Linked DNA regions of Homo sapiens: all the other regions are linked to region 1. Evidence: fine-mapped expression QTL. A gene starts in region 1. Each other region holds a variant in brackets. All regions are shown on one strand. Distances are from middle to middle.

Region 1 (8,106 bases):
AATGGAAATATTCCATTTATGCCAACCAAGTGCAGGGTGGCACAGAATTAAGAGGGAAAAGAGGGCCGGGCGCGGTGGCTCACACCCAAATCCCAGCATTTTGGGAGGCCAAGGCGGGCAGATCACAAGGTGAGGAGTTCCAGACCAGCCTGACCAACATGGTGAAACCCCGTCTCTACTAAAAATACAAAAATTAGCCGGGCGTAGTGGCGCGCGCCTGTAGTCCCAGCTACTCAGGAGGCTGAGGCAGGAGAATCACTTGAACCTGGAAGGCGAAGGTTGCAATGAGCCGAGATCACGCCACTGCACTACAGCCTGGGCGACAGAGTGAGACTCCATCTCAAAAAAAAAGAGTATTATGAACACAACTAAGAATTGCATCATGTTGTAGAACAGAATTTATATTAAATATTTGATTATTCCAGCCACTATTTGTGCTATAAAGCACAGATGGAACACCTTTATTGGATTCACATTATATTTCATACCTATTTTGCCAAAAGTGCTAAAAATGTCAAATAATTAACCCCTGTGTCTTCTGTTCCTCTAGAAACAGGATTTACTATTTTATCTTAAAAAGCAAATTAACCTGTTTCCTTAATATTAGTCCATTCAACCAGCAAGGACTGATTGCATGCCAGGTGCAGTGGATATTGGGTAGGCAAGACATAGTCTCTCGGGAGGCTAAGACAGGAGAATGGCTTGAACCAGGGAAGTGAAGGTTGCAATGAGCCACTGCACTCCGTCCTGAGTGACGGAGTGAGGCCCTGTCTACAAAAAAAAAAAAAAAAAAAGAGAAAGTGGTGGTGCAGGATTCAAATCCATATTTGACCCCAGAATCCACTATGTGCTATGCCAGTCTGGTCTCAGGTCTGCCCTTAGAAATTGTAGGCATTTTCCGGGCACGGTGGCTCATGCATGCAATCCCAGCACTTTGGGAGACTGAGGCGGGCGGATCACCTGAGGCCAGGAGTTCGAGACCAGCCTGGTCAACATGGTGAAACCCTGTCTCTACTAAAAAAATATAAAAATTAGCCAGGCATGGTGGCAGGCACCTGTAATCCCAGCTACTTGGGAGGCTGAGGCAGGAGAATCGCTTGAACCTGGGAGGCAGAGGTTGCAGTGAGCCGAGATCGTGCCATTGCACTCCAGCCTGGGAAACAAGAGCAAGACTTCGTCTCCAAAAAAAAAAAAAAAAGAAAAGAAATTGTAAGCATTGCTCCTCCCTCAGTATTCTCAGAAGAGAACCAGCATCAAATGAGGGAGTTTTTCATACTATCTCATGAAAGCTATGAAAACTGAAAGTTATAACTTTCCACACATACATCAATTTATGCAATCAATCTGTTTCAAAATCATTCTATACCACACTTTCTCTATAAAATGGAAATTGGCCATGTGTCTCAACAAAAAGTTCAGGATAACTGGTAAGAGTCTCAATTTGTTAGTGGCGTGAGTTATTATTGGCTAAGGTTTTTTTTTTTTTTTTTGAGACAGAGTCTTGCTCTGTCATCCAGGCTGGAGTGCAGTGGCACGATCTTGGGTCACTGCAACCTCCGCCTTCTGGGTTCAAGCGATTCTCCTGCCTCAGCCTCCCGAGTAGCTGGGACTACAGGCGTGTGCCACCATGCCCAGGTAATTTTTTGTATTTTTAGTAGAGACGGGGTTTCATCATGTTAGCCAGGATGGTCTCGATCTCCTGACCATGTGATCTGCCTGCCTCGGCCTCCCAAAGTGCTGGGATTATAGGCGTGAGCCACTGCACCCAGCCGTGGCTCAGGTTTTATTAGCAAACAAACTATGAAAAACCAGGAGAAGTGGATAAAGAATAGGAAGAAAGAATCACAAGCCAAAAGAACTGCAAAGGAAAAATCAGGCAGTTTTCTTGAGTTTCTAGCTGTACAGGAAAAGGGTAGGGTGGAGACCTGTAAAGAGAAGTATCTTACCTGTGTTGGGCCTCCAGTTGTCAAAGTCCTGGGCAACACCCCCGGTAGGATGCCCAGGGGGAACTCCTGGGCAGAGGTGAAGGGCTTTGCTACGTGAATTATCCAGTCTCATTAGCTGGTGATGAAATGGTTCACAAAGCACAGATTCTGAGTGCCTTGCCAGTTTTGGGAATTATTTGGAGACTGATATTCTTTCACGTATCACACAGTGGCAGAGAAGGTAATTACCTTCTGGTTGCTGGCACCTTCAGTGGAAGAGCAAATATTAAGTGAGAGCTACTACTCTGAGGCAGGCAGTATTCTAACACTTATATATACAATAACTCTTTAATAACTAATTAGTAATGATGTTATTATCTCCATTTTATAGATGAAGGAACTGAGGCTTTTTGTCTCCAGCAAAATTAGCAGAGCCACGGTTTGAACTCTGGCAGTCTGTCTTTAGAGGCTGTCTTATCCTAGGAATACCACCAGTTAGTTCAACAAGCAGCTTGTGGAGGACATAGTATGTTCCTTGCCTTGGAACCCGGCACTCCTGAGTCACAAACAGTCCATTTTTTTCACCCGGAAAAGGAATGGAGAAGCTGGGCCAGACTATTTCTTTTTTCTTTTTTTTTTGAGACAGAGTTTTGCTCTTGTTGCCCAGGCTGGAATGCAATGGCCTGATCTCTGCTCACTGCAACCTCCACCTCTCAGGTTCAAGCTATTCTCCTGCCTCAGCCTCCCAAGTAGCTGGGATTACAGGTATGAGCAACCATGCATGGCTAATTTTGGATTTTTAGTAGAGACTAAATTTTAGTAGAGACTAGATTTTAGGTTTCACCATGTTGGTCAGGTTGGTCTGGAACTCCTGACCTCAGGTGATCAGCCCTCCTCAGCCTCCTAAAGTGCTGGGATTATAGGTGTGAGCCACCACGCCCGGCCAAAGTATTTCTATATAATGTGGTACACTGTTAAACAGGAAAGTCCACTGGTGCTCGACAGAAATTCTTGTGTTCCCAAGCACATCTTAAACGTGCTTGGAAAGTTACTGAGCTAAAGTGACTGACCTTGAAGGCACAAACCAATTCAGTCACTATTCAGTCAACAAACCTACTGCAGATTTCATTGTCACTTTGCTTCCCTGAAACTTACTTTGTTTTAATGAGACTGCCACGCAAAAGTGAAATTTAGACAAATTTAGAATCTTACTACTCTGTGGTTTACTTTAAAGACCGAAAAATGCTTGGGCTAAACCTTAAATAAAAGTATTAAGTCTTGCAATTAAAAATTGAACCAAAAATACTAACGAGAGTGTTCTGCAAAACTGAAATTTAAACAAATTTACAACCATACTAGGTTTGGTCTCTGCTGTTTGCTTTAAAGACTGAAAAACACTTGGGCTAAACCTTCAATAAAAAGATTAAGTCTTGCAATTAAAATTTAAACTCAAAATACTCCACCAGTAAAATTACTTCAACTTTTGTTGTATGCTTGAAAGTTTTCACAATAAGATGGATAGGAAAAAAGTATTCCACCAAAATCTAAAGAGTGATGACGAATCTCCTCTTTGTGCCGGTTCATTAAATTGCCTAATGGCAACTACGGATAAGTAAATGCCTTTATCTCGAACGGTTCTGCTCTTTAAACGAATGACGGGCAACAGAGACCGAAAAAGTGTATCCCCAGGAATTCGAGAGGGACGGTGAATTGTAGTGGGACCGCCAGGAGGGGAGGTTCCTGCCCCCGAGTAGAACCTGGGAGCAGAGCCGCTCGGGGAGGGCGGTGGGGGCTTCAGGGCCGCGGAGGGGGTCCCCTCAGGGTGGGCCGTCTCCTCCTCGCCCGCCGCAGGCAGGAGCGCGGGGGACCGAAACCCTGTAGTTTGCAGCGTCAGGCAGCGGGTCTGCGCCCAGCGAGCGGCTCCCCAGCTCCTGGGAAGATGCGGACCCGGGACGCCCCCGTGAGCTCACTGCGCCTGGCTGACACGAGGCGCTCACAGAACAAAGCAAGGGCTTCGGGGAGGGCGCGGCCGCGGGGCCGAGCGCGCAGATCGCTCCGGACCCGGACACCGCCTGCGAGGAGCGCCGACCAGCCGGGAAGGGTTCGCGCTAGGCGGCGCCCGGGTCCCGTCGGCCAGGGTGAGCGTCCGGCCCGCGTCCGCGCCACGCCCGCCGCGTTCCCCTTTCCTCTGCGGCGGGCCGAGAGATAACCCTGCCCGAGGGGTCCCGGCGCCCGCCCCCCACGCGGTCGCACTGGAATTCGCAGCCCCTCTCGGGTCCCCGGGGCGCATTTTGCAGTCTGAGTGGCAATGCACTTGCTCCAGGACAGGCGGCTACCCCGCCGCAGCGGAGGCGCGGACTTTTCTTTTGGGGGGTAAGATGGCAGGTCCCGGGAAACAAAGGAAACTTGGGCCCGGCCCCCAGCGCGGCGTGTGTGGCTCGCGTGTGTGCCCCGGGTCCTGTGCCGGAGGCGCTGGGCGCCTGTGCCAGCCTGCCCGCAGCCCGCAGCCGGCGCGGGGATACCAGCCGGGTACCAGCAGCCGGCGGCGCCCGCCCACCTGCAGCGGCGCCCGCCCGGGGGGCTCCCGGCCCGCGAGGGCCGGAGCGGCGGTGGCAGTGGCGGCGGCGGCGGGGGCGCTGGGGAACCCGGAGCGGGGCGGGGAAGGCGGGGAGGCGGCGGGCGGCGGCGGAGGGGAGCCGGGGTGGGCGGGCGGCGCCACGTCACGGCTATTGTGGCTTTCCTGGTATATAAGGTCTCGCCGGCTCGCCGCGCTCCCCACCTTGCCTGCGCCCGCCCGGAGCCAGCGGTTCTCCAAGCACCCAGCATCCTGCTAGACGCGCCGCGCACCGACGGAGGGGACATGGGCAGAGCAATGGTGGCCAGGCTCGGGCTGGGGCTGCTGCTGCTGGCACTGCTCCTACCCACGCAGGTGAGGCCCTGGCGCCCGGCGGGGCTCGAGGGCCGTTCCCGGGGTGGGGGCAGGGGAGATGGACCCGGTCCCGGGGGACCGTCCTGCGCTCCTGCCTCGGGCCACGGACAGGGACCGGGAGAGAATCTTGCTTAGCTGACCAGGGGAGAGGGCCATGTGGACCCCATTTTTCCATTCCCTTGCGTGCTGCCCCCCCTCCTCCCACGGCCCTGGGAACAATGCAGCTCCGCGTGCGGGCTGAGAGGACCCTGCCCCACCCCAGGTTCCACGCTGTCCCTTCCCAGGCAGCCAGGTGACTACTTCCCACTTTCACCCAGAGGCCCGAGGTGCCTGCAGGGATTAGCGCCTGGAGAGCTCGGGCTCCCTGGGGACGTTGTCCCTGGGTCCCTGAGGACTCGCTTTCCCCTAGGAATGTCTTCGCGCTCCCCGCGCTCTACACAAAGAGAGGCGACGGTCCCTTTCGGGGAGGGCGGCTCACGCCCATCCTCCACCCTCGGAGTTGGATTGGGTATCCCGGAGAAGCTACGGCTATCTGGCCCTTTTTAAACAAACCCCGGTTCCGGGCTGAAGCCGAGGCGGGGACCCTCTCCTGACGCTGCGCTCTCTGCGAGGCAACCTTTCACGTCCATCGCTTGTCATCTTAGGATCCCCATGTTATTTTAGCCCAGATTGGCTAGTTCTGGGGAGGCAGCATGGTGGGACGATTCTGTCCCGAGTCCCCGCCAGGCTTTGTTCGGGTCGCCGCTACCAGCGCGGTCTCCCTAGATCCTCCATCCGGGGAACCTCGCCCCGGGTGCGGGTACCCGGGGCCGCGCAGCGCTGCCTCGAGGGTGTATGGATGCACCGCGCCGGCGAGAGAGACCGGGGGCTGGGCCTGGGAGACCCTAGCGGGGGCGGGGGCGAAGAAGGTACGTTTGTTTGGGTCAGTTCGGGTTTGGAGGATGGGAGTGACGGCTCTCCAGCGCCTTCGATTGGGGTTAATCGAGGACTGTCACTGGGGCTTCTCCCCCAAAGTTGGGCGCGCTGCGTCCTCCGTCCCCAGACATCGAAAGTCCGGGCTCACCTGGGAGTGCAGCCTGAGTGTGGAACGCGCTTCCCCACCGCTGGCGGGGTAACCGTACCCTATTGTCTTCCTCCCAGTCCGCTGCGCTCCCGAGCCTTCCTCAATTCTTTGATGGGGGAGGGGCGCGGCTGCGAGAAACCGGCCCCCTCCACTCCCCGCCCCATCTTCTCTCCGACCAGATTTTTTTCCTCCAACATTGTAAGTGAGAAGTTTTAATAATGCGAATAAATCTAGCTTGGGAGAGAAAATTTTGTTTAGTGTCAGTTTAATAAACATAATTTTTTTGTTGGTGTAGAGGATCTTTAGATCCTCAGATTGATACACCAGGTTTTAAAAAGAAAACATCACCTGCTGCAGTAAAACTCATTGCATGAATAAAGAACAGGTTACTTTGCGGGATCCCAAACAAGGTGTCCAAAACAGGCACCCTGTTTTAAGTAAATTACCATATTAATGCTTTTCTTTATTGGGAGTGCCGTTTCCTGATGGGACACACTAAATCTTGCACACAGTAGGTGCCCGATAAATAAATTTGACTTGATCAAGATTTTTTTGTTGTTGTCACTAATCTATTTTGGATAGGATTTGTACATTTCTGTAGTCAATATTTGTTTAATGACCTTATGGATTTTACAACAAAAGGAGCTGGTGCTGATGTAGGAGGGCTTTATCTTTGGATTAATAGGCAGCCAAATGTACACGGGGCCCAGACTCTTGCCTGGTGCCACGTCCTCCCTCCAGCCTGTAATCAGAAGCTCTTGTAAACCCTCCCTTGCAGTGAGGGCTGAAAACTCCGATCTGCCTTTGTTCCATGACAAAGGAGAGATTATCACGTGCCCTACTGGACTGTGCATTTCGTGGCTTGAAAAATCAGTGGTGAATGATGCCACTCAGACGCTGGGACACTGGGAGAACCTTGGTTCTTGGCCACAGCAATGAGCTTGGCGACCAGTGAGGCTGCTGCTGGTGAAACTTAACACCATAACCTCTCGTTGTCTTTTGTGAAATCGTTCCGACTTCATGGTGTTTTCTTGAAGTCATTCTGCCTTAAAGGAAAAACTCATTTTCTTTTTCAATTTAACACAAATATTGTGGCCATTTTTTAGAAGAGTTACTATTTCAAATTTCAAGGGAGAAGATAAGACTGCATTTCCCCCTTAAGGAAAAGGCTAAGTTACCAAGGCTGTATTAAATTGAGTATGTGAAAGTTACCTAGCAAATCCAGGATAGACAGTGACCCAATGAATTCTAGTTCCATAAGTCTCAGTTACAATATTTAAAAATCCCCATTTTTTTGTGCAACTTTAAAATCTCCCCCTTTCTGGGAAAATAGACCTTATTGCAATGCCATTAAGTCAATATAATCTTGGAAACTGAATTAGTTAACCTGGTCCTTTTTTCCTTTGCAAAGAAATAAAAACAGGAGTTATAGTTATTGAATAACTTTTTTGTTCTTGTTGCCACTTGGCATTTTTGAGGCATCTCTAGGTAGTTTGTTTTGAAACTAAAGAGAATGACCTTGGTGGGTTGAGCAAGAATTCAGAAGTTAATGATGTTGGGTAAGAGAACAATGGTAAGAGAGCAATCTAAGAATATATCACCTACTTTAATTTTATATGAGAGTACATGGAGGTAGCTGTGATGTGGAAATGTATCCATGTAACTTTTTATGTATTTTAGATTTATTCCAGTGAAACAACAACTGGAACTTCAAGTAACTCCTCCCAGAGTACTTCCAACTCTGGGTTGGCCCCAAATCCAACTAATGCCACCACCAAGGCGGCTGGTGGTGCCCTGCAGTCAACAGCCAGTCTCTTCGTGGTCTCACTCTCTCTTCTGCATCTCTACTCTTAAGAGACTCAGGCCAAGAAACGTCTTCTAAATTTCCCCATCTTCTAAACCCAATCCAAATGGCGTCTGGAAGTCCAATGTGGCAAGGAAAAACAGGTCTTCATCGAATCTACTAATTCCACACCTTTTATTGACACAGAAAATGTTGAGAATCCCAAATTTGATTGATTTGAAGAACATGTGAGAGGTTTGACTAGATGATGGATGCCAATATTAAATCTGCTGGAGTTTCATGTACAAGATGAAGGAGAGGCAACATCCAAAATAGTTAAGACATGATTTCCTTGAATGTGGCTTGAGAAATATGGACACTTAATACTACCTTGAAAATAAGAATA
Region 2 (8,106 bases), 870 kb after region 1:
AAAATATTTTACAGAATATACAGCAAAATTAATTTCATGATATCATAGACTCTTCCTCAGAATCAGACGGGCTCTCCAGATCTGCCTAAATACACAGCATTTCCAAGGAAGCCTCAGGAACATTAAAGAACATGAAACACTAAAGACCTAGGAAAAGCTCACCAGAGCATCTTGTTCATCCTGTGCTTTCAAACACACGGATTCCTCTCTAAGCCCTGCAAGGATGGGGACTGCTCCCTCCCATGGGAAGGAATCCATTGTGTTACAAACCCTAAATGTAGGTGTTCGTCTTGGTGACTTAAACCAAAGTCCCCTCTGCAACGCTTTAATTTCATTTCCTTTGTTCTGCTCCTTACCCACAATGGGGAAGAGCTGGTTGCCATCATCCACAGGTGAATCCTTAAGACACCTGAAGTTGGGGAACTTTGCCACAATTCCATGAGAACCCCCTTTGTTAACATATTGAAGAATTTCTTACCAAGATTAGCCATTGCTATTTATCTGTCATTTCTCCTTTCTTTTATGACGGGGGTAGGGGAAAACCACAAGATGACTACATTCATGTTTATGCTGAATAAAACCTATCGAAAATTCAGAGAGAAGGAAAAGTGCACACAGCCAACCCTGGTTCATTACTTGTCAAACCTGGAAGGAAGAGCAAACTAGGAGAGGGTTTGTTAGTTTATAGTATGCTGTAAAACTGGGAAAGGGAGAGTGACTATTTGCATAAATTCAGTTAAAAATAACTTTTTGGAATCTTGCTGCATTTTTGCCTGAATTACACGATTAAGACTGTATTGAGATTAAAATCACTTTTCACTTATTTAAGGAGCAGCTGTCAGCAGCACTTTGAGCAAATGAACTTGGGTTCTGAGGACTTGAAGCTTGAAAAATGATGTTAGGGAAGCTTATCCACCAATCCTAAAACATTTCTTGTAGCCACTTCATACCCAGAAGTAGATTTGATGGCCACTGTTCATAATGATCTGATTTCTTCTGGCCAGAAGCTGAGAATGAAATGACATGTTATGGACAAAGAACTCCATGATCTCTGAAAGGAAACAGAAGTGCCTTCTGGACTGGTTCAATGATCACATTCTATCTAACTCTTCTGTTCATCAATTCTTTCAGCTGCTGCCTTCTGTGGTACAGCCTTCCTTTCTAGACCAGATTATCCTGGAGGCCTGGTTTTGCATTAGAAATTATCTGCCATGTGCCTCTAATTACTTTCATTCCTCTGTTCTGGCCTTTTCTCATTATCTCCTTTTAGAGAAGGCATCTCTCTCTCTCTCTCTCTCTCTCTCTCTCTCTCTCTCTCTCTCTCACACACACACACACACACACACACACACAGAGGAAGGAATGAGCTCATTTATACCAACTTACGGATCCTAAATTGATTTCATTTCCCCCAAGGAAAAAATATCTAGAAATGTGCCTATAGACTCCCACGGTGCTGTATATTCTATATATTGCCTCATGGTAGGGAATTAAATGCATCATTTCTGCACAGAGTTTTTATTTTGTTGAAGGTAAACTCAGAAAAAGGTGGCTTCTTCAGTCTTACTTTGTCCTACAAACAGCTGGATGAAGTCTTGATCCAACAGTATGGACTTTGGCTGGGTGGACTTGGGCTCATTAGTGAATATTATCTTTTTATGTAATGTTTCATTAAACAGCTAAGTCCATAAGTGTTCCCAAGATATATAACTCTCAAGAAAAAAAAAGAAAGAAATGATTTGCCAAGTAAAGAACTATGATTTATGGTAGTTAGCTGTTACTCTCAGGATCCTATTGGGCTTTGTTTTGAAAAATTATTACCACAATGGTTCTGTAGAATTTAGGAATATAACCAGCGCCGTTTGGCACGTTTATGACAATAGGGTTCTGGTTTTCTTAACTCCACAGTTACATGTTGGCAGAATTTCAAATTCTGGGCACAGATGTTTAAGTGAATTTAAAGAAGAAACATTAAAAACAAAGCATCAGGCAGTTTTGAGTGTCCAAATGTAAGCAGGAGCATTATTTTCTTAACATGCAGTCAGCATGCGCATAAAACCATAAATTTGCTAATAGATGAAATGGGAAGCATGAAAACCACTTGCAAAGGGCTTTTAGATTTTCTTTTCACTGAATGAACTATCACTTTTCTAGAAGCATCTCCTACTTACATCTATCAAATGAGACTCGAATTTATGTGAGCCTTTTCTCTGGACACAGGTTAGTTTCTGGAGCGTGAATGGCTAAGCACATAGACTTGTTCCCATCACATAGGGCCACATGGCCATACCACCAAGATACCTGGCTCTCACACTAACAACGCTCAGATTCTGGGAAAGCAGCTTTCTGGAAACTTTTTAAATGCACAAGTAGGCTAGGTGCGGTGGCTCATGCATGTAATACCAGCACTTCGGGAGGCCAAAGCAGGAGGATTGCTTGAGTCTAGGAGTTGGAGACCAGTCTGGGCAACATAGTGAGACTGTCTCTACCAAAAACAAACAAAATTAGCTGGGCCTGGGGGCACGCATCTGTAGTCCCAGCTACTCGGGAGGATGAGGTGGGAGGATGGCTTGAGCCTGGGAGATAAAGGCTGCAGTAAGACATCATCGTTCCACTGCATTCCAGCCTGGGTGGCAGAGCAAAAACTGGTCTCAAAAAAAAAAAAAAGAAAAAAAAAAAAAAGGACAAGTAGCAAATAGCAAACGTGCTTACATGTGAAGGAGTAAACATGGGTTGTAGGGCACTCCCCATGGCCTGCCCAGAGGAAGCTACTGAAGCCGCTGTCACCAATGGGCAAAGTGTTCCCTGACCCAGCTTCCCAGGGCCCCACACCCATAAGTGTGCTGAGTCTCCACACACGCACACAGACTGGCACAAGCTAGCAGGGCATTTCTGGAAGTGATCCAAGTCCTCCTTATCTGCTCACCACCCCATGTCCATTGACGAAATAAAATGTAAAAGTTCACAAAGCAAACAAATCGTCTCCCACTTACTGGCTGATGCTTGAAATGCTTCCTTTAGAGAACATTTTTATAGTTCATAAAGAAAAATCTTAGTTATGAGAGACAAATCAATGCTGTCAGATCACGCACAAATATACTCCTGGAAGGAGCCGGGGGAGATCAGGGCACCCCAGAGGGTGCTGCAGAAGAACAGGGGTGGGGGCAGGGGAGAGACAAATTGCATTGTGTTCAAAATTTGTTCTGGTGCCATCTGTACAGTATGGAGATGTCGCTCACTGACCCTTCACTCAAGACACTAGACAAATTTTGGTAAAGCATGAACATTTATATTTAATTTACATTTTGACAATTTGCACATAAATAACATTGTAAACCAGTATGTAAACATAAGATAGTTTGTTGTTCTAGCAAAGTAAAAAGCCAGTAACTTTGGTCAGTTTTAACTTTGAGTAGAGGAAAAAATAAAACCACTGTTGATTGTGGGCTCAACATTCACATGTAAGAGGCAGAAAAGAGAAGGATGGATGGTGAGAGAAGCAAGAAGTCTTTATAAAAATTCTCACTATGGGAAAGCACAAAAGGAGAAAAAGAACAAACGAGTAGTTGGGAATCAAAAGTATTTGGTCTAATGTCAACGTGATGCTTTGGTTTACCTTCAGTTAAGGACTGTGTTTATCAAACACTGATACATAAAAAGCTGTCAGTCTTGGAAGTTACAGAAGACCAGTAAGGCTCTTGGGTTTCCCTGGATTATTCGAAATTTGTTCTCTTCTACAGGTGAACATTAGTTGATGTGAACAAAATGTCAAATATAATTATAAAATAGATTGGAGTAATGTATCAGTATTTAGTAAGGAGGAAAACAGAAAAATTGCAGCGGTAAAGTCAGTTTTTTATTTCTGTGACTTGGGTGTGACCACATAATCATAAAGTGGCAAAAAAAAAATAGAGCTGTCTTAGATGGTCCTTAATACTAAAAAATGATGTATCTCTTCCTCCCTGGTTGTTTTGTGGTCCCCACCACTGCACCAAGGTTTTAGGGTCTCTTACAGTAGGCAAGGGTGCCCAATCATACCGACGTGATTGTGAGGTCACCAAGTATTAAGCAAAGTCTCAGAAAGGAGTGTTCTTTTTTTTTTTTTTTTTTTTTT[G/TG]CCCTTAGAAAAAGTAGATCTTTTACATGGCTTGGCTCACAATTTAAGTGGTTATAAATATATATACATATGATATAGTGGTATAAATAGATTTATAAATATACATCATTTTTTGCTACACTTTGAACACCAACATGTAATCTTTGGGCTTAGCAGAATAAAAGATAGAATAACACAAAGTCTATCTTGCTGGAGCACATTTACTCGGTTTCTCCTCTAGAGAAGCAAATCATTAGATAAGACATCATTTCCTGCACTACTGGACACACTCAATGAGGTAACTGTTGTTGAACAACTTTGCAATGCCCTTTCATCTTCCATTAAATTAACCATAAAATGTAAAAACACAAATACTGAGGAAAATCTGAGTTTTACAGAAAAAATACAATTGATGTGTTGGGGATAGGAATGTTCATTACCCGCTTTTACCCCAAGATGACTAGAATACCCGTTTTTTGTTGTTTGTGTGTTTGTTTTTAAAGTGTGGCCTGAGCCTATCTACCTCGAATCCTTCCTGGTAGAGCACCATGTTTGTGCAATTTTGACATTAAAAAAAAAAAAAAAAAAAAAGCAACAAAAACCAACAACAAAACACCACCCAGACTCAAGCCCCCAAATCGCACACACACAAAGCCACCTATGCTTTGGGGAAATTTTCGCAGTGGTTTTAAAACATGGCATTTTTTTCTTCTTCACATTTTCTGATAATACAATGGATGCAAAAGTCATGTGGCCGCTCTGAATGGCCACAGGACTCGGTGGGGAGGGCAGGGCGGTGGGAGGATTCTGCTCTTTTGGAGGGAGAGACAGGTTGGTAAAGCCTTCCTGTCACCCTTCCGGTAAAATTGTGGCTGGGGGAAAAACATGAACTATCAACAAAAATATACAAGATTCCCTTTCTTGTTTCTTCTACTTAAGTTATTCTTGGGTAATCCTGCACACATACCCCCAAGTTATGTACAATGCTGTTCAAATGATAGGATCCCAGGAATGAACACATCAACTGTCCAACATTGGCAATTACCCAAACCTCATTTTCAAACCATTATTAGAGAGAGAGGTTGACTGAAGTCATATATTTGTTTAACTAAATCTTAGGTACTTATACAGATGTGCAGAAATTATCTACAAAGAATGGCCACAAGACAAAAATACATTTATACTCAAATTACAAGGAATCTTTCCAGTCATTGTAAACTTTTTTAATTATTGCTTTCTGAATGATAAATTGTATAATAAATTATGAAGGATTATCATTGAAAAAATAATTATGACTAGGTAATAGTCTTAGTAATGGGAAGGCTATGCAAACATGTCCACACAAATATTCAAAATACACAGGGGCAAATATATAGACACAGGTGTAAATAAGTATATATAATATGTATACAGATATATATATATATATATATATGGCCTTTGCCTTGTTCATGCCCTGAGATTTCAGTAACTTTGGAGTTCCTTCTTTAATTCCAGAGGTGAGGGGAAACCATTTGCTGTCGAGAGAGCTTTGCAGAGCTGGGATTATGTACAAGCCACTTCCTACAGGCACCCTGACTCACCAAGTCATAACTTAAGAAACAAAATAAGTGTTTTCTGAAAATCTTAAGGATCCATTGGTTCAACTGTTTCTTGTTTGACCTTTACAGGTACCAGAGGTAGTGGGTTGCTGGGAGGCAACTTCATGAGGGGTAGATCTGATGACTCATAAAGGCTGCACCCTGAGGAGAGGAGTCCATTCCCCATGTTTCTTTGCAAAGACACTTTCAGGCCAGTTTCTTCTTTCTCTTTTCTGACCACGGCCAGAATTTCCTTCTCCACTACAGAGATCACACTGATGTCATCCTCCACGTCCTCGAGCCGGTCAGCATTGTCACTGATGTCAAACTTCTCGATTTCTTCATTGATTCGGGTCAGATCTTCCAAGGGCAGCCCAGGCGCCGGGGCCGCAGCGCAGTTCCCTTTCAGGTGAACCTTGAGGCTACAGAGATGGATGTAGTTCTTGTGGCACTGGGAGCACTTGTGGGGCCGCTCCCGGGTGTGCAGACGCTTGTGCAGTTTCAGGTGCACAAACTGGGTGAACTTGGCAGGGCACACCTTGCATTGGTATGGTTTCTCTCCAGAATGGAGTCGCAGGTGGGTCTTGAGATTGCTGGTGCTGCTAAATCTCTTGTGGCAGACCTACAGTGTAGGGGAGAGAGACAGCAGGGAAGGGAGACAGGAAGGCCAGAAGATTAAGAGTTGCCAACGGGAGGGGCAGGCTTACCGGCCAACGCCCAGCAACCTAGGAGGTGAGAAGCCTCCTTGTGGCACCTCCAGTGTGGTATTAAGCAAACGGGGGGATGTGGGCACACAGCACACGAGGGGCTGTTTATTTCCCCTACCATTTTCCCACCCACTGGAAGCTGGCTGTGCCATCTCAAGTCATCAGCAGATACAAAGTACTGGGAAGGACCATAGTGCCATCAGTCCAGGATGGGACAACGCAGAATCTGGTGTTGGCTTTAACTACGGGCTATATAGGACATGGGAGGGTGACTCACAGACATTTTCTACAAAGGTCAGAAGGTCTACCCAGAAAATACTGCGCACCTGGCATTCATGTGGCTTTTCTCCCGTGTGTACCAGGTAGTGTTTCTGCAGGTGGGCGAGCTGAGTAAAGCCCTTGTTGCAAGTCTGACATTTGAAAGGCCGTTCTCCACTGTGCACTCTCAGGTGGACCTGGGAAGAAGCCACATGTGTTAGCTCTGCTCTCAAGCTGGCTCTGAGACCTAACATTTCTGCTCCAAGACTCAAGTGTTGATGCAAATATCTTAAGAAAAGCATCAAGACAGTCTTAAAAAGAAGAAATCTTCATGTTTTCAGAATGGTGTTTTTCTTAAAAGCACAAAAATCACAGGCTAGCAGGGAGTTTCACCTAATCTTCTAGTCCAAACCCCTAATTTTTTTATTATTCAGAAGAAAATCAGGAGAAGGGAAGTCACTTGTCCAAAGTCAAAGAGCTAGAAGTGGCAAAAGCCAGGCGGAATCCATACCCACTATCCCCAACCGGGGGCTCATACTACTGCAAATGCAATCGATACCCCATGGAAAGCAAGCTAAATACAAACACAAGCATGCACTCACAGCCCCTTGGACTGCTCTCTCTCAAGGCCTACCTTCAGATTGGAGAGCTGGCCGAAAGTCTTGGCGCAAACGTTGCATTCGTACTTGATCTTGCCGTTCTGCTTCTTCAGCGGGTAGGGAAGGGTCTTGTAGCCGGTCATGTTTCTTTTGTTTTTAATGAGATTCATGGCTTCGTCGCTGCTGGGGGCTGCCATCGCTGCTGAGGTAGCTTTGGGCTGCACCACATGTTCTGCCGTGGCGGCTGTTCCCGCCGTGGGAGACCCGCTTGTGGGGCTACAGGCCTTGTCCTTCATGCTGGCGGCGGCCCCGGTAAAGGAGAAGGCACTGTGGGGCGCCGGGACAAGCACCTCCCTGGGATGCTCCGGCTGGAGCAACCTCCGGGCTCCATCTGAGGGCAGCGAGCTCGGGAGAGAAGTGGGGTTGAGCATGGGGTGGGGCAGGCTGCCCCCACCGAGGAGATTGCTGTAGACAGGGCACAGCCTCGGGAAGAGGCCAAAGTTGTTGATGCCATTCATGCTGCTCACAGCGCTCAGGCCATTACAATTCATGCCGTAGGGGGGCAAGAGGAACTTGGGGTAGTGAGCGTTGTACGAGGGGATGAAAGCTGGCGGGAGGTGGGGCAGGGGTGCGTAGCCAGGGTAGGAGCCCAAACCTTCCGTGCCGTAGGACGCGTTCAAGTAAGCGTAGGAGTCCCGGTGCTCTTGAGAGCCGGGGCCCACAGGGGACACCGTATTCCCAGGGCTGCTGTGAGGGCTGGAGCTCTTGAGGCTTTGGTCGGGGCTGCTTCTTGCAGAGGGGCTTGGAGTGGTGGAGGATGGAATGGGGGAGCGAGTGATGTACGTGGGTCTCTCGATCCCGTAGGCCAG
Region 3 (8,106 bases), 290 kb after region 1:
TTTCTTGCGGTCCTGGAGGGTGGACATCCAAGATCAAGGTGCCAGCAGAGTTGGATTCCCCTCAGGTCTCTTTCCTTGGCTTGCACATGGCTGCTCTCCTGCTGCCTCTTCACACAGTTATCCCTCTTCGGGTGTGGACCCCTGGTGCCTCTCCCTCTTCTTACAAGGAAATCAGTCAGATTACATTAGGGCCCCACCCAATGACCTCATTCAACCTAATTACCTCTTTTTAAAAAATTAAAAACAAATAGAGGTGGGGTTTCACTATGCTGTCCAAGTTAGTCTTGAATTCCTGGGCCCAAGTGATCCTCCCACCTCGGCCTCCCAAAGTGCTGGGATTACAGGTGTGAGCCACTGTGCCCGGCCACCTAATTACCTCTTTAAAGGCCCTTTGACATACAAATTTTGGAAGGACATAATTTCTTTCACAACATCTTGTTTGCTTGCACTGGGTGACAAGTAACACCCTTTCTTCCCTGCACCCTCTCTTTCTGCCAGTTCCTAGGATTGTTGAAATAAGAATGGGCTGTAAACAGGTGAGGGAATTGTACAGGGAGCTTTCGTAGCTTTCCTTTTTCTGTTTGTCAGAAGGAAAAGAAATTAGATTTCAGAGTCATTTGACAAGGGGTGGGAGGGGACAAGGAAATAATTAATTATTAGTAATCTTTTCAGAAGTTCTGTAAATTTATTATAGAGGAAAACCCGTGGGAGGTCACATTACAGTGTTTTCATTTGAATCTAGGACAAAGAATGGGCTTGGTAGCTATAGTTTCTCTCCAAGTCTAGGAATGCATAACATTTGTAGGTTTTAGTCTCCAAGGGTGTTTTGTGTAGCAGTAGAAGCCAAATTCATTACAAAGGAGAGGCTGGAGCAAGTTGTCATGTGATGCCGCCGACTTGGTGAGTCAGGACTTGCCACCGAAGCCCAACTGCCTGGCAGTCCCCTGCCAGGATAAACTCCAGCAAAAACCCTTTAATGACCTGCAGAAACCAGATGGCAGGCTTTGCTTTTCAAAGGAAAGAGATCATGTCAGGACCTCTGGAATTAAAAGTCCAGATTATTTTAAAAGGACTGGATATAATACTATTTGTGCAAAAGATTTTTTTTCTATATTATGTAAGTTTTTCAAGGTGCATACGATTATTCAGTAGTCTAGAAGAATATACACTATAGAAACAGATCAACCATGTTTCCTCTGGATGGTGGGATTACAGGCTCCTTCTTTTAATTTACTTGCATTTTCTAATTTTTTAATAAAGAGGTTGATATTCTTAATAATAAAAAAAGGTTTTTTTCAAAGATAGGAGCATTTTCAATTTGTTATTTTAGTCTTTCATTTACTCTACTAGCACTTGACAGCATAGAAATATCACCTTTGTTCAATGCCACAGATTAAAATGTGTTTAACTACCAATGTCTTAGATGAGAGTGACTGGAAGTGATGACTTTAGTGTGGCTCTGGGAGACATATCTTCTGTATGGCTATGGTTACTGGAACTCTATGTTTCACGTCCAGGAGAAACAGGTAGGTCTTCTAATCTCTCTGAAGGAAGAAATTTCCTGATAGCTTAAAACCTGATTTAACCTTAGCCAACCAAGATACTTTATTTGAAATGCAATTATGTTTACTTGCTTTCTTTATGAGAATGGGAAATGACATCAGAAAGAAATGATATCGTATGTTTTTGCCTTTACTTTTACGTCAAGGACTACTGAAATCATTTAGTTTCAGAAGCATTTTATCTATAATAAACACCATCATGAATGCAGGCTTACATTTCCTTTTTAGGCTGCCTAAATACTTTTCTCTTCAAATAATAGCAAATGGAACTATTTACACAATTGAAGCAATTCTTTAATATTGAATATGTAAATTTATCAAGTTTTCCTTATATAGGTATTTCTACTGTGTTTTTGAGAACCATAGAGGTTTTTCATGGAAAAGGACACATCCAGAGATACTGGGAGAGTATGTGTATGATTTTCAACCAAAGACTTAGCTTTTAACAAGGATAATTTTCTTAACTATATAAAAACCCTTATTGACCAAAAATAAGAAAAAGCTTGAGTTAAAATAAGAAAAAAAATCTTAGGGAATACACTTAAAAACTGCTCCTCGGAGCTGGGCCCGGTGTCTCACGCCTGTAATCCCAGCACTTTGGGAGGCCAAGGAGGGCGGATCACAAGGTCAGGAGATCGAGACCATCCTGGCTAACACAGTGAAACCCCCGTCTCTACTAAAAATACAAAAAATTAGCCGGGTATGGTGGAGGATACCTGTAGTCCCAGCTATTCGGGAGGCTGAGGCAGGAGAATGGTGTGAACTCGGGAGGTGGAGCTTGCAGTGAGCCGAGATGGTGCCACTGCACTCCAGCCAGGGCAACAGAGCAAGACTCCGTCTCAAAAAAAAAAACAAAAAGCTGCTCCTCAAAACTTTATTTTAACTTATATTTCATACATTTGATTTCACAAAAACTCACTGAGCTTATTTTGCAGAGGTATGCAAAAGTCATTCTTGTTAGCACAGTGATTGATTCTTTTACTTAATTTATTTTCCTTCATAGGGAATATATTAATTTCCCAAGTCCACTGGAAAACTAGCAATGATAAAACTACATCATTTAGCTGGGCGTGGTAGCTCACGCCTGTAATCCCACCACTTTGGGAGGCCGAGGCTGGCGGATCACCTGAGGTCAGGAGTTCAAGACCAGCTTGACCAATATGGAGAAACCCCGTGTACTAAAAATACAAAAAATCAGCCGGGCATGGTGGCGCATGCCTGTAATCCCAGCTACTTGGGAGGCTGAGTCAGGATAATAATTTGAACCCGGGAGGCAGAGTTGCAGTGAGCCGAGATCATGCCATTGCACTCCAGCTTGGGCAACAAGAGCGAAACTCTGTCTCAAATAAATAAATAAATAAAATACGAAAAATTAGCTGAACGTGGTGGCAGGCGCCTATAAATCCCAGCTACTCGGGAGGCTGAGGCAGGAGAATCTCTTGAACCCCGGCGGTGGAGGTTGCAGTTAGCCAAGATCGTGCCATTTGCACTCCAGCCTGGACAGCAAAAGCGAAATTCTGTCTCAAAAACAAAAACAACACAACAACAAAAAAGAACGACATCATTTTAAAGCTGTTTTCTAGTCCAGAGCAATTTCTAATTAGACTTTGTAAAAAGTTTTATTTTATTTAAATAAATAAGTGGGTTTATTAATTTGTCAAGGACCTCACGAAAGTGTTATACTTTTAAATGAGGTGCCAGAATAAAAGACCAAAACACTTAATATGCCCAATGCATGTTCACTGTTGGCACACGGAGCTTTCAGAGAATGACGAGTCCATGGTGTGGAGGGAATGGAGTCTCTGGGTACACACGAAAGAGTTCCCATTCTGTATTCTTACACTTAGTTACTTACAAACCTCTTTAGTGATGGCCTGCTGGGTTCCTGTCTTAAGATTCAGTGTAAATGCAGCAAGTCCTATGTTATCTAGTCTCAGCTTAAGCCAACACCACTGACCAGAGCAACCAATGGGAAATGCTAATGACTCTTAGGCACGCGTGGTAAGTTTAAACATAATGTATGGTTCGTGACTAGCCTGGGCAGCATGGTGAAACCCCATCTCTACAAAAAATACGAAAATTATCCAGGCGTGGTGGTATGTGCCTGTAGTCCCAGCTACTTGGGGTGGTGTGGGGCTGAGGTGGGAGGATTACTTGAGCCCTGGAGGTTGAGGCTGCTATGAGCTGAGATCACACCACTGCACTCCAGCCTGGGTGGCAGAGTGAGACCCTGTCTCAGACAAATTTAATTTAATTTAATTAACAAAAAAACCCCAGGCCGGGCGCGGTGACTCACGCCTGTAATCCCAGCACTTTGGGAGGCCGAGGTGGGAGATTCACAAGGTCAGGACATTGAGACTATCCTGGCTAACACGGTGAAACCCCGGCTCTACTAAAAATACAAAAAAATTAGCCAGGCGTGGTGGCGGGCGCCTGTAGTCCCAGCTACTCGGGAGGCTGAGGCAGGAGAATGGCGTGAATCCGGGAGGCGGAGCTTGTAGTGAGCCGAGATGGTGCCACTACACTCCAGCCTGGGAGACACAGTGAGACGCCATCTCAATTAAAAAAAAAACAAACAAAAAAAACCCCACAAACCCATAATGTATGTACGTGCAGGAGCCAAATGTCCTTCATAAAAATTCTGTTCAGCCCCTGTGAAAATAAAAAAGTATTTTTACATTTCGACTGCGAATGTACTGTTGTAGCCTGCAGCTTTTATTTCTGCATTTTTATTTTAAAAAATTAACGGCTTACCTTCAGAGCAATTGTATGTTACATAAGACACAAAGTCCCTTTCTAGCCGACTCCACATGCTTTCTGTTTCACTCCTGGGTTAACACATTCTTCCTAACACTGAACATTTGTCTATGCCGGTGTTTGAGACAGGAATTGAAACACTTTTGCAAATATGAATTCACATGCCACCACAGGAGTTCTGGTTAAATGTGCCAGTTAGACAATTATGTTTACTATCACTCCCTCTGGAAACAACTCCTAAATGACATTAAATAATTTTAAAAGGCAATGTGATTTTAAAAGTCAGAAAAACAGAGAACAAAAGAAAAAAATGAAGTAGCATAAAAAACTAGAAGCTGGAAGTGTTTGCACTAAATGATTTAGGGCAAGGTTTCTCAACCTTGGTATTATTGACATTTTGAGCCATAGAATGTTTCACTGTAGATGGCATCTGTAGCAGCAT[T/C]CCTGGTCTCTACCCACTAGATGCCAGTAGCACCCCTCCCTAGTTGTGACAACCAAAAATGCCTCCAGTTATTGCCAAATGTTCCTGAGGGTAAAATTCCGCTGGCTGAGAACCACTGATTTGGGAAATAAGAAAAATCAAAATGTATCCCCAGGAAAAGTCTAGAACCAGGCTTACTCTGGCCAAAGGATGCCTCACTCACCTCACCCCCAACCTCCCAAAATAAAAAGCTCAGGAGCTAGAGGCACCAGGCAGAAAACAGCACTGGTTAAAAATCTGTAAAAGAGTTAGGTTGAATGCTCTGTATGTCCTCTGCTTTAAAGATTCATTCTTTAAAGAGGCTGAATCTTGGGGACTCCAGGGTTGACGACACCAGGCACAGCTGAGGGTGAAAGTTCCATACAGAATGTGGGCATTATATAGGAATCTACTAAACAGGTGTGGGATCCTAGCTCTTTGCTCAACTCAGCTCTACGAACACTGGCATCTAGGTACCTATTTTCTAGGGAGGAGACTGGAAGATTCTTCTGATAAAAACTGACCGAGCCATAAACAGAAAAAAAATCGATTGTCACTCAAATTTAATGAATTGGCCTGGCCAGATCACTCTAAAACCCTAAAGTAAAATCTACCAGTCAATGACCTCTCCCTCTCTTCTCCATACATATCTTCTAATCACAGGCTTTTCAATGCCTCACTCCCATGCAAATAGACAGCCAAGAATGGCCAAGCATTTAAAGAAAGCCTCCAGCATGGAAAAGAAAAAAAGAAACAAGAAGGAACTTAGAGAAAACAGAAATATTGGGGAGCAGATGCAAAGTTCAAAAATGTTTTAAGTGAAGCTTCCCTTCTCAGATCTTGGTTTCCAAATACCAAGGCGGGCCCCCACTGGACTGGGGGCACAGAAATATCCTCTTGTGTCAGAAAATGTAAAAATGTGCAAAGAATGATGAGGCGGTAAGACAGAACATAGAAGCTAGCTTGAAGCGGTATCCCCTGGCCAAAGGGAGGACAATTTGAGCATAAAAATAAATAAGAGTATAGAATTGTAAACCTTGATTACAATAGAAATCCATGAATCCATGATTATATAAACAAATAAGAGAAAGGGAAAACACTTCCTTTCAGTAGAATGCCAGCTAATAATTGTAGAAGGAATAATGGAAATAGATAATTACCATTTGGCAGCCCAATCTGTGGTAGCTGATAGAGACGAGGTCATCAATGGATGCTAAGGCTGGTAGGTAGAAGTTTGGTGAGGAACAGGTGTTGGCATAATCTCAGAATATTTCTGCACAAAATAACCAACCAAATGCAAAGGGAGGACTGGTGACTTTACAGTCGAGAAAACTGGCAGACTCCAAATACGAGTGATCAAGGGAAATGTCACCAGTGGTGGGACGGGTTGGCCTTGTATTCCTGATGCGATGGGCTAAGAAAGAGCACAGAATCACTGTTGCAGTATTCCTTCCAAGAATCTATGGCTCTAGTCTGGCCATGGGTAAACACTGGACACACCCAGGTGGATGATCATCCTACAAAATGAAAGGCCTATACTTTTAAACTGAAAGAGGGTGGACTGGGCACGGTGGCTCACGCCTGTAATCCCAGCACTTTGGGAGGCTGAGGCGGGCAGATCACCTGAGGTCGGGAGTTTGAGACCAGCCTGACCAACATGGAGAAATGCTGTCTCTACTAAAAATACAAAAAATTAGCCAGGCATGGTGGCACCTGCCTGTAATCTCAGCTACTCGGGAGGCTGAGGCAGGAGAATTGCTTAAACCCGGGAGGCGAAGGTTACAGTGAGCAAAGATCGTGCCATCATACTCCAGCCTGGGCAACAAGTGTTGCCGTCTCAAAAAAAAAAAAAAAAAAAAAAAAAGATATGAGAGAGGGTGAAACGCTGCAGAATTGTTCTGGACCGACACATAAGTGCAATGTATGTTTTCATATGGGATTCCTATACCTTAAAAGAAAAAGAGGCATTGTTTGGACAGTTGGTGAAATTTAAATGGGGTCTAGCAAAGATATCACATCTGGCCCAACAGCTGCAATCAGGGCTACTTCTTAGTCCACAGTTACCCTTCAAATTGTTTTTGTTTGTTTGTTTACAGGTGACAAAATGGTGAATTAAATGGAGACATGATGGGGTTCACCACCCCTGTATTCTTTATGTTTTTAAGGGTGGCACTCATTTCTGCCAGACCCTCTGTGATGCAATATTGTTTTTGCTTTACTATTTTGCGTGTGTGTGTGTGTGTGTGTGTGTAAGAGGGTACCAATTTCAGAGCTTTACGCTTGGCTGTATTCACCCTGATAGCTCTTACCCCACTGGCCAAAGAAGCAGTGTGGGGTTGTGTTAATTGCCAGGAATGTCTATTCCAAACATACATTCAGAGACTAGGAAATGACTATGGATGAGTGTGCAGACCCAATGAATTCACTGTAAGCCACACCTGAACCATAACTCCATTTATTACCAGGCCCCTCATATATTCCCCACCATGACCAACTGCATATATATTTTTTAAGGGGCCTAGCAGAAACTGAAAATACAGGACCCCTTGTTAAAAAAATTATTAAGAATTTCAAGCGGGTAACAGTAGAGCATTAAACCAATAATTAAACCACACATAGAACCTTCTAAATGCAAAGTCCTGTGTGGCTGCACACGTCGTACATCCACAAGGATGGCCCTGGCACCCGCTCTAACAGGGTCCCATGATGGTGGTTCAGGTCTCTGGGTATTACTGTCAACCTGGAGTCTGTGTCCAGCGGTCCTCAGAATGTTTGGATAGTCCCCTTTCTCCAGTGTGAAGTTACCAAATTAAATGGTTATTCACCTCTCTGAGGAAGAATCGGGAAATCAATACTGTGAATACTTGTGCCTTCCTGGGCACCCAGCCTCTCTTTCTGTCTTTTGTTTTTTGTTTGTCTGTTTGTTTGTTTTTGAGATGGAGTCTCGCTCTGTCACCCAGGCTGGAGTGCAGGTGTGATCTCGGCTCACTGCAACCTCTGCCTCTCAGGTTCAAGTGATTCTCCTGCCTCGGCCTCCCAAGTAGCTGGGACTATAGGTGTGCCACCACGCTTGGTTAAGTTTTTGTATTTTTAGTAGAGATGGGGTTTCACTATGTTGGCCAGGCTGGTCTCAAATTCCTGACCTCAGGTGATCAACCCACCTTGGCCTCCCAAAGTGTTGAGATTACAGGTGTGAGCCACTGCACCTGGCCCCAGAATCTCTTTCAATTCATGGGTTCTGGGACCCAAAACTGGCTCAGTTCTGAAAACTGGGCAAGACATCCTGACTTTTCATTGGAATGACTGTCCTGAACCTCCATCCTTGAT
Region 4 (8,106 bases), 130 kb after region 1:
GAGGGCCACAGAACTTGTTGAGTCATGAATCACTGGTCCAAATGGGGTCAGCTGGTTGCCAGAATGCAAAAGTCTGAAAACCATCTCAAAGACCAACCTTAGGTCCTACAACAGTGATATTACCTATAGGAGCAACTGGGGAAGTCACAGATTTTGTGACCTCTGGCTGCAGGACTTCTGAGCAGTAAGGGATGATAGAAATCATGCCTACATTTTAGTAGAATTCAGACTCTTCCCACAGTTAGCTTTGCAAAGGTAGCTTCAGTCTCTGAACGAGGAGGGGATTAGTTTTTCTGTTTTTTTTTTCTTTTTTTGAGACGGAGTCTTACTCTGTCACCCAGGCTGGAGTGCAGTGGTGCAATCTCGGCTCACTGCAACCTCTGCCTCCCGGGTTCAAGCGATTCTCCTGCCTCAACCTCCTGAGTAGCTGGGATCACAGGCACCCGCCATTATGCTCCACTAATTTTTGTATTTTTTAGTAGAGACGGGGTTTCACCATAAAGGCCAGGCTGGTCTCAAACTCCTGACCTCAGGTGATCCACTTGCATCAGCCTCTCAAAGTGCTGGGATTACAAGCATGAGCCACCACACCTGGCCAAGGGAATTAGTTTTATGGAAGGACTATTAGCATCCTTGCTTCAAAGTTAAACTATAAACAAAATTCCTCCCATGGTTAGCCTGGCTTATGCCCAGGAATGAGCAAGGATAGCCAGCCTGTGAAGCAAGATGGAGTCAGCCATGCTAGATTCCTCTGACTGTCACAATCTTTGCAAAAGTAGTTTTAGGAATGAAAGTGCAACATGAGAAGACAAGAGGATGACGGAAGCAGGATTGATGTGTGTGTGTGTGTGTGTGTGTGTGTGTGTGTATATACATATATATATATATATATGTATATATATACACATACACATTTTATTTTAGACAGAGCCTTGCTTTTGTTGCCCAGGCTGCAGTGCAATGGCATGATCTTGGCTCACTGCAACTTCTCCTCCCTGGTTCAAGTGACTCTCCTGTCTCAGCCTCCCGAGTACCGAGTAGCTGGGATTACAGGCACGCGCCACGATGCCCGGCGAATTTTTTGTATTTTTTTTGAGATGGAGTCTCACTCTGTCACCCAGGTTGGAGTGCAGTGGTGCGATCTCGGCTCACTGCAAGCTCCACCTCCTGGGTTCAGGCCATTTTCCTGCCTCAGCCTCCCGAGTAGCTGGGACTACAGGCACCCACCACCACACCTGGCCAGTTTTTTTGTATTTTTAGTAGAGACGGGGTTTCACCACATTAGCCAGGATGGTCTCAATCTCCTGACCTTGTGATCCGCCCGCCTTGGCCTCCCAAAGTGCTGGGATTTCAGGCGTGAGCCACTGCGCCTGGCCCAAATTTTTTGTATTTTTAGTAGAGACGGAGTTTCACCATGTTGGCAGGCTGGTCTTGAACTCCTGATCTCAGGTGATCTACTGGCCTCGGCCTCCCAAAGTGCTGAGACTACAGACGTGAGTCACTGTGCCCAGCTTGATGTATATATTTTTAAATTATTATTATTGTTATTGTTTGAGACAGAATCTTACTATGTTGCCCAGGATGGTCTTGAACTCCTGACCACAAGTGATATTCCTGCCTCAGCCTCCCAAAGTACTAGGTCTCCCTCTCTTGCTCAGGCTGACATGCAGTGGCACGATCATAGCTCAGTGCAGCCTCACACTCTTGGGTTCTGGCAATCCTCCCACCTCAGCCTTCCAAATAGCTGAGACTACAGGCATGTGTCACCAGACTGGTTATTTTTAAAAATTTTTTGTAGAGACAGGGTCTTGCTATGTTGCTTAGGCTGGTCTTAAACTCCTGGGCTCAAGACATCTTCCCACCATGGCTTTCTCAAAGTGCTGGGATTACAGGCATGAGCCACTGCAACCAGTCAGGACTGACAAGGTTTGAAAATTTTATGTGCTTTGCACTTTGACTCTCATGATAATCTGGAGAAGTGGTTCTTATTTTACCATTTTTAACAACGAAGAAACTGAGGCATGGCTGCAAAATATTGGCCAATTGTAGATCCACTTACCAAAATAATAATACCTTATAATGAAAGCATTACAATTAGTGGTGTAAGGGAGCCAGCTCAATGCAGCTCACAAGACCTGACTGTGGTATCAGTTCCCAATCTGCATCTGGTGACATCATGTTGACAGCTTGAAATTGGCCACCATGAGAGCATTTACACCATGGAAATAGACACGTTACAAATGCTTTTTCTTCATAGAACCAATTGTTAAATGTCTGCTGGCACACTATTCGCTACCATCTAAATGCGGGGTGCAATGTTAATTAAATCTAATTGCTTATTGAAGAGATGGTGGCAACCCAGTTGGAGGCAGAGGGGCAGTGGGGATGGTGCAGAATTCCAATGGCCTGGGTTAGACAATGCTATCTAAGTCCGTCATTTGTAACTGCTAGGGGTGTAATTTCCTCTTTCATCTCCACTTCCTTCCCACTTTCCCCACATGCAGCTCAAGCTTATGGTGTGAGATGTGTGACTTCCTTAAGATAGGATCGAGAAAGTAGGCTGTTTGGGAAGCAGACTGGTGATCTGTTCTATGGAGAAGCTAAAGGGGTAGCCTGCTTAGAGACTGACAGCCATGGTCTCCATTAGAAAGGACTGAGTGGGACCTTTGTCCCAGGAAGAGACTAAACAAGGAATTAATATGTTCTCTCCATTTGGGGTCTAGACCTACAAAGGTTATTTATTTATTTATTATACCCAATTCTCTTACAAAAAGAGAAACTTCAGTCTCTCTTCTGCTGGATTCTGGATGCTGAAGAGTCTGTTGTTTTCTAGAAGGTGAGGAGGTGGATGATGATTTGTTAAGAGCCTTCTGTCCTCGCCAGCCCCGCTGCCTTGCTCTAGTCTAAACCTAGGAGTTCAGGTCAGACAGAAACAGCTTCAAGACTTATCTGTCCAGCAGCTCTGAGGGCAGAGAGCAGTCTGAATTGAGTTAGGAGGAAGCTGTGGGTTGCCATCACCAACAGTTTTCAGGTCTTTTGCAAAAGACTTAACTCTACCGTGCTTTCCAAAGACTTTAGTGTACTGTACATATTGTAACTTATGCAATAGCCTCTTCTTATGATCACTATTAACACAAGTGACTTCACTTATGGCCTTTTCTCTGGGCATGTGTGCTATTTATTGCTTTTTAATTGGGGAATTAGGATATGCTTTAAAATGCCAAGATTAAAAATTGGGGAAAGATATAGAGAAAATTGTCAGCAATGGACACTTATGGGATATTGGTCTAGAAATTCAATATGTTTTATATATTTGTACATTTCTAGATACTGTCAATATTATCTTTTCCCTTTCCTTTATTTCCTGGGTTAGTCATTTTAATACTGCAGCTAGTGTCTGGGAAGCCACCATTCAAAATAAAAGCTAAGATCTTTAAAATAATTTACATTTAACTACTTGGTTCCCTCACTCCTGCCTCATCCTCTGTCCACCCATGATCATCTTCCTCCTGAATTCCATGTTCCTCATACCCTTGCTTTCCTTTTTATAGAGTTTTATTGCACATATTCCTAAAAAGTGTATACTTTTATTGTAGTTATTCTAAATGTTGTGAAAAAGGTGTGGATAATATTGTATGTAATCTTTTGGCACTTTAGTTTTTAGTTACCATTTATTAAACTAATGAGATTTATCCAATTGTTTGGTTCATTCATTTTGCCTGCCATCTAAATGTTTTACCAAAAGTCTTTTGTACATTTTAATAACAAATAGTTTAGATTTTAAAAAGTAATGTAATTGTCGGAAGGAATATCACGTGTATTAGCAAATTTAAAAATAAGATTTGTATATTGCTTTGGTGGGAAGTAATATTGCCCCTCTCCTGTTAATGCCCAAATTTTCAAATCCTGAATTTTTGATGCCCAGTTGTATTAGTCTATTCTCATGCTGCTAGGAAGAAATATCCAAGACTGGGTAATTTATAAAGGAAAGAGGTTTAATTGACTCACAGTTCCACATGGCTGGGAAGGCCTCAGGAAATTTACAATCATGGCAGAAGGGGAAGCAAACATGTCCTTCTTCACATGGTTGCAAGAGAAAGAAATGCTGAGCGAAGTGGGGAAAAGCCCCTTATAAAACCATCAGATCTAATGAGAACTCACTCACTATCAGAAGAACAGCATGGGGGAACCGCTCCCATGATCTGATCCCTTCCCATGAGGTCCCTCCCACAACACGTGGGGATTACAATCTGGATTACAATTCAAGATGAGATTTGGGTAGGGAAACAGAGCCAGACCATATCACCTGTGTTAACACTTTAATGCGCTCCCTTTCCTCTTTGCTTTCTAATCAAGAAGTCAAGCTTAATGTAGGTATTTATGTAAAGTGTAACATACCAGAAATAACTTGAAGGGTAGTATAACAACATTCTGCATGATTTGTATAAAGTTTACATTTTAAAGCTACCAAGGAACCTTTCAACTTTCTATTTGATTATACTTTGCAAAACATTATACAGCTTAGAACAACTGAGCACCCAGTATTTTCTCTCACCTTAATCTACCATGGTCCTCCAACTCCCAACTAAAACTGTACTAATACATTAGGTCATTAAAATTTCTAAATCATCTTAACTCTTTTATTTGCCATTTTAAATATTTGTGTTTAGTAAGGTATACACATCTTCATTTGTAATTCAAAACGGCATTTTACAGAGTGCTTAAGCAAATCAGTGCTGAAAAAAATTTTCCTTATATCTATGGTAACCTGTGGAGAACTGTGTGAAAGGACTCTCTGGGGCCTCTAGGCTTTCCCAGAAACCCAGTTACTTTAGGTTGGCTGTCCTCGTCACCTCTGCCCAGGAAAGGCCCGAGGCCTGACTAGGCCCCCAAGGAGCCAGCCCCCTCCCGAGGCACCTCCCTCCCAAGGAGACACATCCACGTGGCATGGAAACTTTTCGGTAAAC[A/G]CTCAAAAGTGAGAGCTGGTTCCCTTACCTTGGAGGGGACATTCAGGGATGGTAAGAGATAAGACGTTTCTAGGAAGAAAAGAAAGGGGAAGTGAGAAGATAAAAGTCTTCACATAAGAGGCAAATGAGAAAAGCATTTTCTGCCAAATTGTGAAAAGTGAAAGAAATGAAAGCAAGCTTGCTTTGGAGACAGAAATAAACACTAGGCAAAAAGAAACAACTTTTCCATAAAGCGTTTTGTAACAGTTAGGAAAAACTCAAAGGTAATCCATGATATTGGTCCAGGGATGCCTAGAACAAGGTCTGCTTAGGTGACTGGAAAAGACACTTGCCCCTGTGAAGAAATTTCAGAGGTACCAGGAAAGTTCCCTGACCCCCAAATGCCTCAACTGTTTGGTTCATGACCCGCACAAAGGCCTGAGGCTGAGAGGCTTGTGGGATAGAGACCCAGCTTGCTCTCCACTAGTTAACCTGTGTCCTACGGCTGCTTTCAGCAGGAGGAGGGGGGACACCTGTGTCAAGTGCTGTGTGTGCCCAGATGAGGCCTCTTTCTAATCTCTGCAAAGCTCTCCAATTCCAGAAAGACAATTCATAAAGAATGGGTCATCCCACCCATTTATTCTGGGCAGAACCACGAGACCAGGTTGCTGAAGGGGATCTTGAATCTACTCTGCAATTTTGCCCAGGGTGGGCCTGGAGCAGAGAAATGAGGAGAGAAGTTAAGCAATGGAAGCAAGAGCAGCTGGGGCCTGCCAGGACTGAGCTGAGGATGTTCATGATTGGCTTCCATTTGGAACTCAGCAAATGACTGAGGCTGCCCATGGCTTACCATTGAGAGAAGGCCACACCAAGGCCTGGGAACAGCCAGCTATGGGCAGATCAGGCCAGCACCTCCTAAACCAGCCTGTACCTCCACTTCTCTGTGCTGATTTTCCTTCTACTCTCTCTAATGCTTATTAAAGTTTCCCCAAGACTCTACCAGTTCCACTTATCAGAGCAACAGTGGGTATTGGGTCATGGTGGAGGCAAGGGGACACAGGATGAATTGAGGCTTGTAGGTACTGCTGGCTTTCCCTACTTGCAGAAGTTCCTCTGGAAATCATCATTATCATTATTATTTTTGTTCTTTTTTTTTTTTTTTTTTTGGAGAAAGGGTTTTGCTCTGTAGCCCAGGCTGGAGTGCAGTGCTGCAAACATGGCTCACTGCAGGCTTGACCTTCTGGGCTCAAGGGATCCTCCTGCCTTAGCCTCCCAAGTAGCTGGGACCACAGTTGTCAGCCACTATACCTGGCTAATTTCTTTGATTTTTGTAGACGGGGTCTTGCCGTATTGCTCAGGCTGGCCTCCATCTCCTGGGCTCAGGCAATCCTCCTGAGGCCTTGTCCTCCCAAAGTGCTGGGATTACAGGCACTTTTTATTAAGGGAGAGGCTATTTCAGCTCTCTTTTCAGACTGGAGAATGCCTTTTTCAGGGCTTTTTGATGGTGCTGTGCCACTGAATACTTCCAACTTGGAATAATCGTTGAGTGATGACTTTCCTCAAAGGTTTAAGAAAAACTACATTAAAATAAATAAGCAGGCCATGTGCAGTGGCTCATGCCTATAAATCCCATCACTTTGGGAAGCCAAGGTGGGAGGATCGCTTGAGCCCAGGAGTTCAAGACCAGCCTGGGCAAAAAAGCAAGACTTTTTCTCCTCACAAAATTTAAAAATTAGCCAGATGTGGTGGCACTCACCTATAGTACTAGCTACCTGGGAGGCTGAGGCAGGAAGATGGCTTGAACCCAGGAGTTCAAGGCTGCAGTGAGCTGTGATCATGACACTGCACTGCAGCCTGGGCAACGGAGCAAGACCCCGCCTCAAACAAAACAAACAAAACAACAAAAAAAACAAAAACTGGTTGGGAATGCCTACAATATTAGAAATACAGGAGTTATTATTTCTAGGTTCCTGGGTTGTAAGGCTTTCAATTTTTTTTCTACATGCTTTTCTTCATTTTCTAAAATGTAAATTAAAGATGTTTCCAATTCACTTTTCTGTCAGATTAAAACCCCAAGTTTTGCCTTTAAGGTTTCATTTCTAGAAGTGGTTCAGAATATAATGCTGAAGTTAGCTCAGTTACAGTAACTGGGGATTTCCTCTAGTCTCTGGCTGTTCATGTGGAAGTTGTGTTGTCATTTCTTTCCTTTTCTTTTCTTTTCTTAAGCCATCACAGTGACACCTGGCTATCTTGGCAAAGAAGAATAACAGGACAACTATTGTCTATCAAGAATTTTAGCCAGGATTTCCCCAGTCTGCTCCTCATTTTTGTGATTTTGTTGGTTCCTTTGATGAGAACTTTTTCTTGAGGTTTTAGGCAGACTTAATTTAAAGCATTGATCTCATCACACTTTTTTAGCTTCTGGTTAAAAATAGAACATCTCACGTAATTTCCAAGGAAAATCAGTTCTGTCAAATCTCATTGCTAATTCATAAAGGGCATTTGACTGTTCAAATAGAAGAGTATGGGAATCCAATGGATATTTCCGAAGTTACCATTTTTTAAAGGAATTTAACACCCCATCTTGGTCAGCCATGTGGATCTGAATCAGTTAAATTTAATCCAATGGAGATAAATTTGATTTTGCATGAATTAGAGCAGCATTTGCAAAAAAGCTCTTGACAGAATGTTTTATTCATATTCAGTACCAGCATCTTTTGCTTTTCTTTTAAGGTTGGTAAGAAAAGGATTTCAATCACACATTGTAGGCAAATGTCTTATGTGCTTTAATGTGTAAGGAGCATAAGTTGTTATTATGATAATGTTAATAAGACTTTTCATGTAGTACATTTTGGTTGACATTTAATCCCAATTGAGAAAAACCTAAAATTAATTTTTGTAAGAAACAAGACCAGAGTGGCTCATCAGGCTTAGAAGTGGGACTAATGGTACTATAATCAGACTGATGAGCTGTTAAATATCTGATGTGAAAACCATATCATGAAATGATAGGAAAGAATCTGCACAAAAGTCCTTTTGAATTTGCTCCTTGTCCTTTATTTTGCAGTTTGTTCAAAAGGCTTATTACCTCGGCTTCAAAACACAGATCCAAGATACTTACCAGCTGGTAACTTTTATTTGTTAATCAACTCAGCTTTCC

Alleles and levels. Positions count from the first base shown, and alleles are read on the strand shown. Sizes are in standard deviations (SD) of each study's normalised expression. Not every link is listed here.
With allele TG in place of G in region 2, the expression in monocytes after LPS of the gene that starts at base 4,703 in region 1 is higher (moderate effect, 0.54 SD a copy in Fairfax 2014).

What was found.
Region 2: its variant is fine-mapped to the expression of CD24 in monocytes after LPS (Fairfax 2014, PIP 0.95).
Region 3: its variant is fine-mapped to the expression of CD24 in lung (TOPMed, PIP 0.98).
Region 4: its variant is fine-mapped to the expression of CD24 in whole blood (TOPMed, PIP above 0.99).

What each region holds. Positions count from the first base shown.
Region 1 is chr6:106,971,326-106,979,431 of GRCh38, reverse strand. CD24 (CD24 molecule) reads left to right here and starts at 4,703. Exons shown (of 2, transcript NM_001359084.1): 1 at 4,703-4,854; 2 at 7,598-8,106. The coding sequence starts at 4,786. The coding sequence ends at 7,771. RefSeq lists silencers at 3,942-4,161, 4,202-4,351.
Region 2 is chr6:106,105,100-106,113,205 of GRCh38, reverse strand. It overlaps PRDM1 (PR/SET domain 1), which reads right to left. Exons shown (of 7, transcript NM_001198.4): 5 at 7,273-8,106; 6 at 6,707-6,835; 7 at 3,268-6,295. The coding sequence ends at 5,720. Among named protein-coding and RNA genes, the nearest start is that of PRDM1, 23 kb to the right of the region's middle. RefSeq lists enhancers at 7,004-7,717, 7,718-8,106. The variant G/TG (reference allele first, on the strand shown) is at 4,115.
Region 3 is chr6:106,685,055-106,693,160 of GRCh38, reverse strand. No RefSeq gene overlaps it. Among named protein-coding and RNA genes, the nearest start is that of LINC02526, 6.4 kb to the left of the region's middle. The variant T/C (reference allele first, on the strand shown) is at 4,762.
Region 4 is chr6:106,844,185-106,852,290 of GRCh38, reverse strand. No RefSeq gene overlaps it. Among named protein-coding and RNA genes, the nearest start is that of LINC02532, 61 kb to the right of the region's middle. RefSeq lists enhancers at 5,339-5,388, 7,019-7,078. The variant A/G (reference allele first, on the strand shown) is at 4,968.